Linked DNA regions of Homo sapiens: region 2 is linked to region 1. Evidence: fine-mapped expression QTL. A gene starts in region 1. The other region holds a variant in brackets. All regions are shown on one strand. Distances are from middle to middle.

The links. PIP is the estimated chance that this variant, and not a neighbour inherited with it, causes the effect.
Region 2: its variant is fine-mapped to the expression of PLA2G4C in prefrontal cortex (BrainSeq, PIP 0.92).

The regions. Positions count from the first base shown.
Region 1 is chr19:48,109,229-48,112,137 of GRCh38, reverse strand. PLA2G4C (phospholipase A2 group IVC) reads left to right here and starts at 1,321. Exons shown (of 17, transcript NM_003706.3): 1 at 1,321-1,651. RefSeq lists an enhancer at 1,346-1,505.
Region 2 is chr19:48,182,144-48,185,052 of GRCh38, reverse strand. ZSWIM9 (zinc finger SWIM-type containing 9) reads right to left here. Exons shown (of 4, transcript NM_199341.4): 3 at 2,286-2,598. Among named protein-coding and RNA genes, the nearest start is that of ZSWIM9, 13 kb to the right of the region's middle. The variant GGT/T (reference allele first, on the strand shown) is at 1,257.

The DNA.
Region 1 (2,909 bases):
CGCAGGCGGGGCAGTGGCATGGTCAGGTCTAGGAGTGAAAAGATCCTGCGATGGTTGGAGTTGCGGGCACTGAAGAGGTGAGCCTGGCGTTAGGGGGAGCAGGGGAGACCATCTTCCCCCTGGTGAAATCCTGTTCTAAAATTGGTGATACTCCTGCCTTGGCCTCCCAAAGTGCTAGGATTATGGCCTCATATCTATTTTTAAAAAATAAGAATTCAAGCTGGGTGCGGTGGCTCGCAACTGTAATCCCAGCACTTTGGGAAGCCGAGGCAGGTGGATCACTTGAGTTCAGCAGTTCGAGCCAGCCTGGCCAACATGGTGAAACCCTGTCTCTACTAAAAATACAAAAATAATTAGCCGGGCGTGGTGGCAGATGCCTATGTTCCCAGCTACTCGGGAGGCTGAGGTAGGAGAATCGCTTGAACCCAGGAGACGGAGGTTGCAGTGAGCCGAGATTGCACCACTGCACACCAGCCTGGGCGACAAAGAGTAAGACTCCATCTCAAAAAAAAAAAAAAAAAATTCAAAACCCATCGAGTTGGGATGACGCTTAGTGCTGGGCTTCAGGAAGAGTAGGCAGGAGGGTAGTATGGGAGGTTTCTAGGAGCCACTCTTGGAAGCGGTGCTCCCCACAGATGCCCGATTGCACTGACTGGAACTCGGTCACATGACCACATAACTCGCTCACATGACCACACCTAGCTGCAAAGGTGCTGGGAAATGTGGTACCCTGTTGGGAGGCCACTTCTGGGCTTCAAACCTTCACTGTGAATGGAGCTCACAGGTTTTCTAAAAATGGACATTAAATGAACCAGAGTTGGCCCTAAGGATCTGGCTCACTGCAACCTCCACCTCCCAGGATGAAGCACCTGCCTCAGCCTCCCGAGTAGTAGCTGGGATTACAGGCACACGCCACCATACCGAGCTAATTTTTGTATTTTTAGTAGAGAAGGTGTTTCACCATGTTGGCCAGGCTGGTCTCGAACTCCTGACTTCACATGATCCGCCTGCCTCAGCCTCCCAAAGTGCTAGGATTACAGGCGTAAGCCACCACGCCTGGCCTCAATATTTCTTTTTCTGGGTATTTGAGTATGATATTATATATGATGGTTATTAGACAGCCAGATGCATAGGAGGATTAGCTAATCTGTTTTGAGGAATACTTATCTCCAATATAGTTATATAACGACAACATTCTTTTTTTGAATACTGGTCTCGGGTGCCTAATGACAGAAGGGTGACATCACTAAGGAAGCCTGGAAAGTCCCAGCCCTCCACGTGATCCCACGGATGAAAATAGCTCCGGGTGAGCTCTGGAACAGCTGAAAAAGCTGGAGCAACCAAGCAGGGCCTACAAGCCGAGGAGGGCTGTTTAAAGGCGCAGGGGCCATTTTACCTCCAGGTTGGCCCTGCTCAGGACCAGGAGGAAACACCTCCAGCCCGCGACCTCCTCCCACAGGGGGAAAAGGAAAGCAGGAGGACCACAGAAGCTTTGGCACCGAGGATCCCCGCAGTCTTCACCCGCGGAGATTCCGGCTGAAGGAGCTGTCCAGCGACTACACCGCTAAGCGCAGGGAGCCCAAGCCTCCGCACCGGATTCCGGAGCACAAGCTCCACCGCGCATGCGCACACGCCCCAGACCCAGGCTCAGGCAAGCCGTGGGGGCAGGGAGGGCTGTTTCATCCCGCTGGGGCGGCCATAACCAAGTACCAGGGATTGGGTGCAATTAAATAACAGGATTTCTTTTTCTTTTTTATTTTATTTTATTTTATTTATTTATTTATTTTTTTTTGAGACAGCATCTCGCTCTGTCGCCTAGGCTGGAGTGCAGTGACGCGATCTCGGCTCACGGCAAGCTCCGCCTCCGGGGTTCAAGCGATTCTCCTGCCTCAACCTCCCGAGTAGCTGGGATTACAGGCGCACACCACCACACCCGGCTAATTTTTGTATTTTTAGTAGAGATGGGGTTTCACCATGTTGGCCAGGCTGGTCTCAAACTCCTGAACTCGTGATCCACCCCACTCGGCCTTCCAAAGTGCTGGGATTACAGGCGTGAGCCACCGCGCCCGGCTAGGAATTTATTTTCTAACACTTCTGGAAGCTAGAAGTCCAAGATCAAGGTGTTGGCAGGGTTGGTTTCTCCTGAAGCCTCTTGCAGAGGCCCTAATCTCTCCTTATAAAACCAATCAGGCTGGGCGCGGTGGCTCACGCCTGTAATCCCAGCCCTTTGGGAAGACGAGGCGGGCGGATCCTGAGGTCAGGAGATCGAGATCATCCTGGCTAACACAGTGAAACCCCGTCTCAACTAAAAATACAAAAAATTAGCTGGGCGTGGTGGCGGGCGCCTGTAGTCCCAGCTACTCCGGAGGCTGAGGCAGGAGAATGGCGTGAGCCCGGAAGGCGGAGCTTGCAGTGAGCCGAGACTGCGCCACTGCACTCCAGCCTAGGGCACAAAGCGAGACTCCATCTCAAAAAAAAATAAAATAAAATAAACCAATCAAACCAAATTCCAGGCCACCCTCAGGACCCCACTTTAACTTAGTCACCCCTTTAAGAGCCTATGTCTGGCCGAGTGCGATGACTCATGCCTATAATCCCAGCGTTTTGGGAAGCCAAGGTGGAAAGCTCTCTTGAGCCTAGGAGTTCAAGACCAGCCTGGGTGACATAACAAGACCTGATCTCTACAAAACATAAAAAATTTAGCTGGAGATGGTAGCATGTACCTGCACTTCCAGCTACTCGGGAGGCTGAGGTGAGAGGCTCGCTTGAGCCCAGGAGGCTGAGGCTGCAGTGAGCCACGATCACACCACTGCACTCCAGCCTGGGTGACAAAGCAAGACCCTGTCTCAAAAAGCAAACAACGAAAAAGAATCCTATGTCCAAATACAGTCACATTCTGAGGTTCTGGG
Region 2 (2,909 bases), 73 kb before region 1:
CTCCCCTTCCAGGGAAGGCTCTGATCTATGAATGAGCTGTTCTGCACAGGGACAATCCTGCAGAGGGTGGGTTCAGGGAAGAACAGCTGAGGCTTATTTATGTCATGGTGGGTAGTGGAGGAGAGTTACTAGATCAGCAAAGACCAGTGGAGTAGGAAGTGCATGTGTGTTTGTCCCCATGGTGAAGGTCATGGGTCTGGATCCAGGCTGTGTGGGTCCGAAGCCCAGCTCTGTCACTAAATAGCTGTGTGACTTTGAGCCAGTTACTTGACTTCTCTGTGCTTCAGTTTCCTTGTCTGTAAAATGGGGATGAGAATGGTGGACTATTTCCTCATAGGGCTCAGGTGAGATGAAAATGAGTTATAGTATGTAAAGCACTTAGGGTAGTGCCTGGCATATAGTAAGTGCTTGATAAACATTAGCTAAAATTATTATTATGTCGGGACAGAGGCCTGGGCTTGGGCTGGTGGCTTGAATCAGGGCTTCTTACTGGGCATGAGATGAAGACAGGAAGAGTGTGCCAGAGCTGAATCTCGACTTTACCCTGCCTTGGGACCTCTTCCACACACAAGGGAGACAAAGGCACAGCCAGGAGGAGAAACCAGTTCTTCCCCTACTTTCTCATCTTTCTTTCCTCTTTAAACTTCAAGTTCACCCCAAACTTGAAGTTGGATTAAAGCCGCAGAGATTCCTTATGGAGCAGCAGCCATCCTCACTGTTCCTCCAACACAAGCTTGCTCGTGCCTCTGGGCCTTTGCACTGGCTGTTCCTTCTGCCTAGAATTCTCTTCCCTCTGATGACAGAATGAGGGTCCCTTGCCTCTGTTCCATCTCCTCTGCTTCACCATCATTTGCTAAAGAGACCTTCCCTGACCAATTCAAACAGCACCCTTAGAACTGTCCCGCTCCAGGCCCCGGCCTTTTTCTCCTTGATGATAACTTATCGCTCCATCACATTACAGGACATAGCACTCTTCCTTCTCCTAATTCTCCATCTGCATGGTGGGTTCAGGTGTGTTCTCCCCTTGAGAACATTCATCAAACTAAGTATTTATCATTTGTGCATTTTCTGTTTGTGCAGTTCAATTAAAAAAAAAAAAATTTAAGTAGGCCTGGCGTGGTGGCTCATGCCTGTAATCCCAGCACTTTGGGAGGCCGAAGCAGGACTGCTTCAGTCTGGGAGTTCAAGACTAGCCTGGGCAACATAGGGAGACCCCCCCCCGCCAAACATCTCTACAAAAACTAAAAAATTAGCTG[GGT/T]GTGGTGGTGCACGCCTGTTGTCCCAGCTGCTCGGGAGAATGAGGTGGGAGGATTGCTTGAGCCTGGGACATCGAGGGTGCAGTGAGCCATGACTGCACCACTGCACTCAGCCTGGGTGACAGTGAGATCCTGTCTCAAAAAAAAAAAAGATTAAAAAAAAAAAACTTACATAGCATTTGTCATCACTGTGGCTCCCCTTCTTGCTAGCACCCAGCCAGCCCCTAGTGATGTTACATCATATTTGGACATGTTTGTCAGTTGTTGGTTTTTCCCGCCAGAACTGCAGGGGCGTTCTGGCAGTTACCTCTGCAAGGCAGCCAATAGCCATAGGTGGCTATTTAAATTTCAATTAATTAGAATAAATTCAGGCCGGGCGTGGTGGCTCTCGCCTGTAATCCTAGCACTTTGGGAGGCCGAGGCGGGCGGATCACAAGGTCAGGAGATCGAGACCATCCTGGCTAACATGGTGAAACCCCGTCTCTACTAAAAATACAAAAAAATTAGCCGGCGTGGTGGCACGCCCTGTAGTCCCAGGTACTCGGAAGGCTGAGACAGGAGAATCGCTTGAACCCGGGAGGCGGAGGTTGCAGTGAACCCAGATCGCACCACTGCACTCCAGCCTGGGTGATAGAGCACTCCAGCCTGGGTGACAGAGTGAGACTCCGTCTCAAAAAAATTAATTAATTAATTAATTAATTCAGTTCCTCAGTGTACTGGACACATTTCAAGTGCTCAGTAGCCACTTGTGGCTGGGGGTGCAGAATCACAGAACGTTTCCATCCTGGAAGAAAGTTCTACTGGGCAGCACTACCCTAGAAGGTAAGCTCTCTGCGGACAGAGACCACGTGGGTCTGGTTTGCTGCTGCATCCCCAATGCCTCGGTAAGTACTTATTGAATGAATGAACGGATGAATGGAGGAAAGGAGTGAAGGGATGAGAGGGCGGATGAAGGCATGAATGACCCACGAGTCTTCAGCGCGGCTTTCCCCCGCCCCCTCCCCCGGCCTGCCTCTCTCGAGACCCCACCTTGGCCTCGGGGTCGGTGCGGAAGAGGCCCTCGAGCACGTGCAGGGCGTCCAGGACGCCGTGGTCGCGGCCCTTGCAGTAGGACAGCAGGCGGCGCACGTCGGCTGGGGCCACGAACTGCTTGGAGATCTTGTTGGTGGTGCGCACCGGCAGGCAGGCGTTGGCCAGCAGGTGGCCCGGGCGGAAGTAGTAGGCGAACTCCAGCGGGCAGGCCGGGTGTGAGTGGGTCAGCTGGCACTCCGTCACCACGAGGCGGTCCCGCAGCGGGCTCAGCTTGACGATGATGAAGGCGGGGCAGCCGGGCTGGGGAGGCCTGTGGGAGGAACCACCACCGCCCTGGTCACATCACTCTGCTGCCCTCTTCTTCCTTTCCACTCACCTTTTTTTTTTTTTTAAACTAAGAATTGTTTCAGGCATAGAGAAGAGTAGAGGGCCCTAAGAATATGCCAGCTGTGTGACCTGGGGCAAGTCACTTCAAGTCTCTATGCCTCAGTTTCCTCATAGGTTACAAGGAAGGTCCTACTCATCATACCTTCCTCATAGGATCGTCATGAGCATGAAAAGAGTTAATATAGGTAAAGCACCTACACAGTGTCTGGAATATGGCAAGCAGTAAGTGTTCAC